Linked DNA regions of Homo sapiens. The protein of the gene in region 1 purifies or fractionates together with the protein of each later gene. This does not show direct contact. Each region holds a gene or a part of one and is shown on either strand. Other genes may lie near its edges.

Region 1 (3,500 bases):
AAAGAGAAAGACATGCCTTAGATCTTCTACAGAGCAGATGAAAGGAAAATGAGTGAGTCCCAGAAACACCCTACCTCAAAATGAAAACCTTCCTTTAAGGCAATGGCCCGCAAGATTTTGGAGGAGACGGTGCTGGACAACATGTACGTGTCTTTGAGAGCACTGCGATCCTGGTTCTTCTCTTTCCAAGATGTAAAAAGCCACCAGCCCAGGAGGGCCCCCAACTCATTGCCTGAAAACACCCTCCATTCACCACTGAAAGAAAAAAAAAACAACAACCACCATTCATTTCCATAATCTTAAGGAAGACTCTAAAGTGTCATGGGGATAAAACAATTTAGCAAACAAAGCATCTAAGTATTTTCTGCAAGGCTGTTCTTGTTATTCATCATCTTTAAATAACTGGTCAGAAATGTAACTGCCATTTTACAAACATCTGAGCAGCTACCATATATATCAGCCAGTTTGCCTGAACAGACATCCTGTCTTTGAAGACTGTATAAAATAAGTATGTCACACATGACACACAATGGCTCTATATTAATCTTTGGCAAAGCCTTTGGTTTTAAATATAACAAATATGCTGGCAAGATCCCCCATATATAGAGTAAGTTTTGCTATCTCAATTTCTGGACTGGTCAGTATTGCTGATTCTGAGAGGGGACAGCTCAGTACCCCTTAAGATCAAGCTCAGTCCTAAATGGTCAGAACATCAGAGAAAAGATGTGTAATTTCTGCTTCTCTTGGCAGTCCAGATGGCTAGAAGTAAATCTCACCTATCAGGACGTATCATCTTAGCTTAACTTTCTCAACACTGATATAGAATGGAACCTGTTTTATCACAATCTGAAAACCCTACCATTTCAGCAGCAGCACCCTCCTGCCCCCAAAACATCACATAGGCTACCTGACGCCCAAAATTGCTTGGGCCCTGCCTACCTTTCAACTTTAGCCCCACGTACTTACTTCTCCTTTGTACAAACTCTCTGGTCAGACTTGTCTTAAACACTGTGCCGATACCCCACAGGAATTCCTCCCTGGTCTGTCCAAACTAAATTCAGCATCTCCTTGAAGGTACTGCTCCCTCCTAAACCCCTCAGCAAATACTGAAGCATACAGCTAGCACCAAAGTGCTTTACCCTCATTAGACACTGAGACATTACTTATAAAAAGATCAATTACAAAATGAGAAGTTCCCAAATAGGAGTTTCAATTTGAAATATATACTGGGTTGATTTACTCTGCATTATGCTTGCCAATCACGTAACCTCCCCCCACACTAGATCTCTATCTTGCTCTCCATTAGAAGACTCTACAGGAGGTTCAGTGAAATGATCATTTGCAAAATAAATGGGAAATGTTTCCAAATAGGTCCCGTCTCCCCAGAAACATTTTACCAATGAAGAGATCATCCTTTATATGTTCTATAATATAGGTAATCACAATTAATTTTACCTGTCTTGCTTTTCTGCCACAGCAAGTCTATCAGCATCCGGGTCGTTAGCTAAAACAATTCTGGCCTTGGTTTTGTCAGCCAAAGCAAAAGACAAAGTCTGAAGAAGAATATGAAAATAAAAGATTATTTAATCAAGAATCGAGCATATGATAGTCTTTAAAAACATTCAGTTCCTTAAGAACTCAAGAGGTCTTTCCCCTCTTAGAAAGATAATATAGGACCAACCAAGACAGCTCCAGAAGTGAAATTTAGCAAACAAAAGCTGCAGCTGGTCTTGGTTGGTCACATAGTATCTTCCTAAGTCAGAGGTCAGATAATGGGAGCATCGGTGTGTGACCCAAGCCTACCAGTGTGCCTGCTGCACATGCGCCAGTAGGTCTGTGGTTGGACTGGTATTTCGGGGCATTGCTGTGTGATCAGCCTCACAAATAAAACAAAATAAACTGATTCTCTGAATGCCACTGCTACCCCAACCTTTAAAAATGTTACAGAAACCATAATGTAAGCAACACTTCATATCAGAAAAATGACAAGAAATAAAAATCATAACCTGCTAAAGTTTCACTCTATTACTGCTTCTTTTTGGCATTAAGGAGACACGGCAAATTAAATTAAATTAAATTAACTGAATTTGAAGCACCATTTAGAGCTCAGTTCTCATATCCTGATCCTGGGGTGTTTAATTTGAAAGATCCTTTAAGAAATTAATGACTAACAAATATACATACTTCTTGTTTTTTTTTTTTTTTTTTTTGAGACAAAGTCTCGCTCTGTCACCCTGTCACCCAGGCTGGAGTGCAGTGGTGCAATCTCAGCTCACTGCAACCTCCATCTCTCAGGTTCAAACAATTCTAGCGCCTCAGCCTCCCAAGTGGCTGGGATTACAGGCATGTACCACCACACCCAGCTAATTTTTGTATTTTTAGTAGAGACAGGGTTTTGCCATGTTGGCCAGGCTGTTCTCGAACACCTGACCTCAAGTGATCTGCCTGCCTTGGTCTCCCAAAGTGCTGGGATTACAGACATGAGACGCTGCACCCAGCCAAACATACATATTTCCATGCTGAAATTAGTTTTTCTTCAGCACAATGAAAACACATAAAAATGTATTTTACTTGACAGTAATAGTTTTGAATATAAAAGCAGATTTCATAATTTAAAAAAAAATTAGGTTACCAAGACACCTTTCCCCTCTTCGGGATTCGGGTATTTCACTGTTGGAAACTCAGGATCCGGATCTTTCTGTTCAGGAACAGCCTCAGGAGGAACAAGGTCAAAAGCCTTGAAAGCTGACTGCACAAAGCTATGACCCACCCCATGGACAGAGGTGTGCACAAACTTCACCTTTGTCTCCCTGTTCACGCTCCTAGAATCAGATACACAGTGGAAAATGATACAAGGCAGAAACAGGGCTCTCAAAACTGCAAGGTTTGCAAGAATGCACAAGACAACTGAACATCTTTCTAATTCCATTTCAGAAAAACAAAACGTATCCATTCTCTCCCAGATATATATATTCCTTCCCTCAACATACTCAAGTTTTAAATTCTACTCTGTAGTTATTTTCAGCAAATCTGATTATTTCAGGTTTTGTTTTATGCATCCCATCTAGAGTGAGATACAAAGAAGAACCTCAAGCTCATGTTCCCACACGAGACTCACTGCTGGCCTGACAGGTGCCCTGACAGTGCTACAGCCAGCCCGGGACAGTTCCAGGGCTCCACACACCCACACATCCCCAAAGCGACAGGTTCCCAAATGTCTTTTATCAGCTTCAGAAATGATTTTCAAAATGTCCTTTTTAACAAAATGTGTTGGGTTATCCCATACATAAAGATATAAAAAATAAAACTTTTACTTTGGGAGGCCGAGGCAGGTGGATCGTGTGAGGTCAGGAGTTCAAAACCAGCCTGACCAACACAGAGAAACCCCATCTCTACTAAAAATACAAAATTAGCTGGGCATGGTGGTGCATGCCTGTAATCCCAGATACTTGGGAGGCTGAGGCAAGAGAATCGCTTGAACCTGGGAGGTGGAGGTTGCA
Region 2 (3,500 bases), on another chromosome or scaffold:
TCTGCAAAGAGAATATCTTGAATAATGTTACAAAACATTTAATCCTTTTAAGACATTTTAGTTCAAGTCCTAATAAGAGAACATAAAATACATAATATTTAATTTTAGACATAAAAAACTTGGAAAACATTTATAGGCCGGGCGCTGTGGCTCATGCCTGTAATCCCAGCACTTTGGGAGGCCAAGGGGGGCGGATCACGAGGTCAAGAGAAGAGATCAAGACCATCCTGGCCAACATGGTGAAAACCTGTCTCTACTAAAAATACAAAAATTAGCTGGGCGTGGTGGCACACACCTGTAGTCCCAGCTACTCAAGAGGCTGAGGCAAGAGAATTGCTTGAACCTGGGAGGTGGAGGTTGCAGTGAGCCAAGATCGCGCCACTGCACTCCAGCATGGCGACAGAGCGAGACTCCATCTCAAAAAAAAAAAAAAAAAAAAAAAAGATATTTATTGGATTTCTTACAGTGTATCTATAACTTGCGTTAAATATCTTATTTTAAATTTTTAACTTTTTTTCCTAACTTGAACACTAGGCAAATTGTACTAATGTTTCTGCAAAGAACTTGTATGACTACTATTCATATCTGAAGAGGTTATGAGAGAATGAGCAGACTGAAGTCTTGTATTCATGAGATTCAAAGAAACAGTAATATTTTCATATGGTAATAATATATACTAGTAATAACTATTAACTTTCATAAATAACCATCATACTATTGTGATAGTTTCCTACTATTTGGTGTGGAAGAAGGAGTTGACTAGATCACTAATATTCCATTCATCTTCTAATCCAAAGCTGCCTGCATACCCAAAGCAAAGATTTATAGATAAGCTCGGAATCCTGTAAGAATATAAATATTTTATAATCCAGAACCTTCAACAGAATACCATAGAACCCTGCATTTATCTAAGGCTGAAGCTATGACCTAAGAAAATCTAAAACTACAAGTTAGTACTCCATTACAGTTAGTCCAGTTGGAGTGTGTGCTATAGCAGAAATCTACATCAAGTAGTATCAAACCTGCAGAGAGATTTACAATTCACTCAGAAAGTAGGATTTTTGGCACTAAAAGCAAAAAGACAAACCAAATGTCAAACCAATAAAGTAAAATAATTTTCTTATATATGCTGACCTCAGAATTGAACCCGAGAGTCTGAAATGGACCTGCTCCTGCTCCAAGAATAAAGGCTCCAGGCAGCTTGATTTCTTTTGCAATTTTATTCAGATCATAAACCTATAGAAGAGGAAAAAATATTATTTAAGTCACAACTTGTACAAAGTCCCTGGTTTACCTTTTATTACTGATCCATTAGCACTTCCTTGCCAACTGATCAACAGGTCTTCTAATAATAAACACAGTAATCAACCCAACTTCTACAATCTTCATGTGAATATGCAGAGTAAAAGTACTTACTTTTTTTTGGTTTACAAGAGGCAATAAGTAAGGCACACCTCCAACTTCTGCAATTCTAGTTTTCCCACAGATGCCTAAGAAAAAACCAAAAAACAAAAACACAAGCCACCTTAAAAACAGGCAAACATCTAATTTAATAATAAAATGCCAACAGTATATAACTTCTCCATTATCATAAAGTTTTACAAATAACAGGGATTGGAAGACATAGTGGCTAGAACCCCTGTCCTATTTTAAGTACCTGTGTCTCTAATAATCATCATAACCAAGCATGGCTTATAAAGTTGGTGGCATAAAGGCAATACAAGGCAAGGGCAAGGGTTAGAACTGGGGCCAAAGTTTGGATTGGGTAAGGTTTCTAGAATGTCTTTGACGCCTTATTTCTTTAAAAAAAATCTATTTTGGGGTGGTTTTCCTTTTTTTGGCTAAAATTGTTTCTTGTTTTTTAATTTAAAATATTTTGCTCTGGTACAATGTAAATTCTCAGATGGTGGCTCACGCCTGCAATCCCAGCACTTTGGGAGGCTGAGGCGGGTGGATCACCTGAAGTCAGGAGTTCGAGACCAGCCTGGCCAACATGGTGAATCTCTACTAAAAATAGAAAAATTAGCTGGGCATGGTGGCGGGAGCCTATAATCCCAGCTACCAAGGAGGCTGGGGCAGGAGGATTGCTTGAACCCGGCGGGGGCAGAGGTTGCAGTGAGCCAAGATTGTGCTACTGTATTCCAGCCTGGGCAACAGAGCAAGACTCTGTCTCAAAAAACAAAACATCACGAGGTCAGGAGATCGCGACCATCCTGGCTAACACGGTGAAACCCCATCTTTACCAAAAATACAAAAAATTAGCCGGGCGTACTACTCAGGAGGCTGGGTGTACTACTCAGGAGGCTGAGGCAGGAGAATGGTGTGAACCTGGGAGGCAGAGCTGGCAGTGAGCCGAGATCGCGCCACTGCACTCCAGCCTGGGTGACAGAGCGAGACTCCGTCTCAAAAAAAAAAAAAAAAAAAACCCAGAGAGATCTAGGTGAGATGTACAAATTTCAAAGTTATATTCAGGTAGTAATTAAAACCATAAGAGTGGATTTAAAAAATACCCAGATAGATTACTAGAAATAAGAAGAGGCTAAGGAAAGAATTCTGGAAAAGATCAATATTTAAGAGACTATTAGAAAGAAAAAGGAACCAGGAAAATATGGAAGAAAAGAGGAAGGAAAGGCACAAAGGAAGAACAGGTGAAACAAGGATAGAGAAGATAGAACCTAGGGGAGAATGTCAGGCAGCAATGGCCAAGCAGTATGAAATACGTGGAGAGGTTAAATAGTACTAGTAAACATTTTAAGGTCACTGGTGATCTTAGCAAGACCAGTTCATGTAGAAAATGTCTAACACACCACTGCATCCAGCTAATTTTTGTACTTTTAGTAGAGATTGGGTTTCACCATGTTGGCCAGTTTGGTCTTAAACTCCTATGTTTATGAAAGATCATACATACACATATTAGATGCATATCTGGCTTCTAGTATTGCAATTTAAAGACTCACAAATTACTGACCAGAAAACACTTCTTCCAAGCATAACTCTGCATGACAAAATTAAGACTAACCATTTTGGCTGGGCATGATGGCTCACACCTGTAATCCCAGCACTTTGGGAGGCCGAGGCGGGCACATCACTTGAGACTGGGAGTTCGAGATCAGCCTGGCCAACATGATGAAACCCCGTCTCTACTAAAAATACAAAAATTAGCCAGGTGTCGTGGTGCACACCTGTAATCCTAGCTACTTGGGAGGGTGAGGTATGAGAATCGCCTGAACCCGGGAGGCAGAGATTGCAGTGAGCCAAGATTGTGCCACTGTACTCCACACTCCAGTCTGGGCGACAGAGCGAGATTCCATCTCACACACACACACACAAAAAAAAAAAAAAAAAAAAAAAGATTAACCATTTTTCCTTCTTTCTTGTACTCTTCTGTCTCCTGACCTTTATTTAATTTTAGTTAATTACTTAATTAGCAGGGGAAATACATTACACTCATATTTTTAAAAAAATCAAGGCTGGGCGTGGTGGCTCACGCCTGTAATCTC

Evidence for each region. Proteins that work in one complex are often made in the same cells at the same time.
Region 2: the proteins of PGM2 (region 1) and C11orf54 fractionate together in Homo sapiens (co-fractionation; one large-scale study listed by BioGRID). This does not show direct contact.

Annotation. Positions count from the first base shown.
Region 1 is NC_000004.12:37,843,686-37,847,185, reverse strand, and holds part of PGM2 (phosphopentomutase), read right to left. Parts: intron 2,823-3,500; coding exon 2,633-2,822; intron 1,554-2,632; coding exon 1,456-1,553; intron 256-1,455; coding exon 75-255; intron 1-74. UniProt on the Homo sapiens protein: Catalyzes the conversion of the nucleoside breakdown products ribose-1-phosphate and deoxyribose-1-phosphate to the corresponding 5-phosphopentoses.
Region 2 is NC_000011.10:93,751,672-93,755,171, reverse strand, and holds part of C11orf54 (ester hydrolase C11orf54), read right to left. Parts: intron 1,491-3,500; coding exon 1,417-1,490; exon of another isoform or gene 1,413-1,416; intron 1,237-1,412; coding exon 1,135-1,236; intron 1-1,134. UniProt on the Homo sapiens protein: Exhibits ester hydrolase activity on the substrate p-nitrophenyl acetate, in vitro. Regulates DNA damage and repair by regulating HIF1A degradation via chaperone-mediated autophagy (CMA).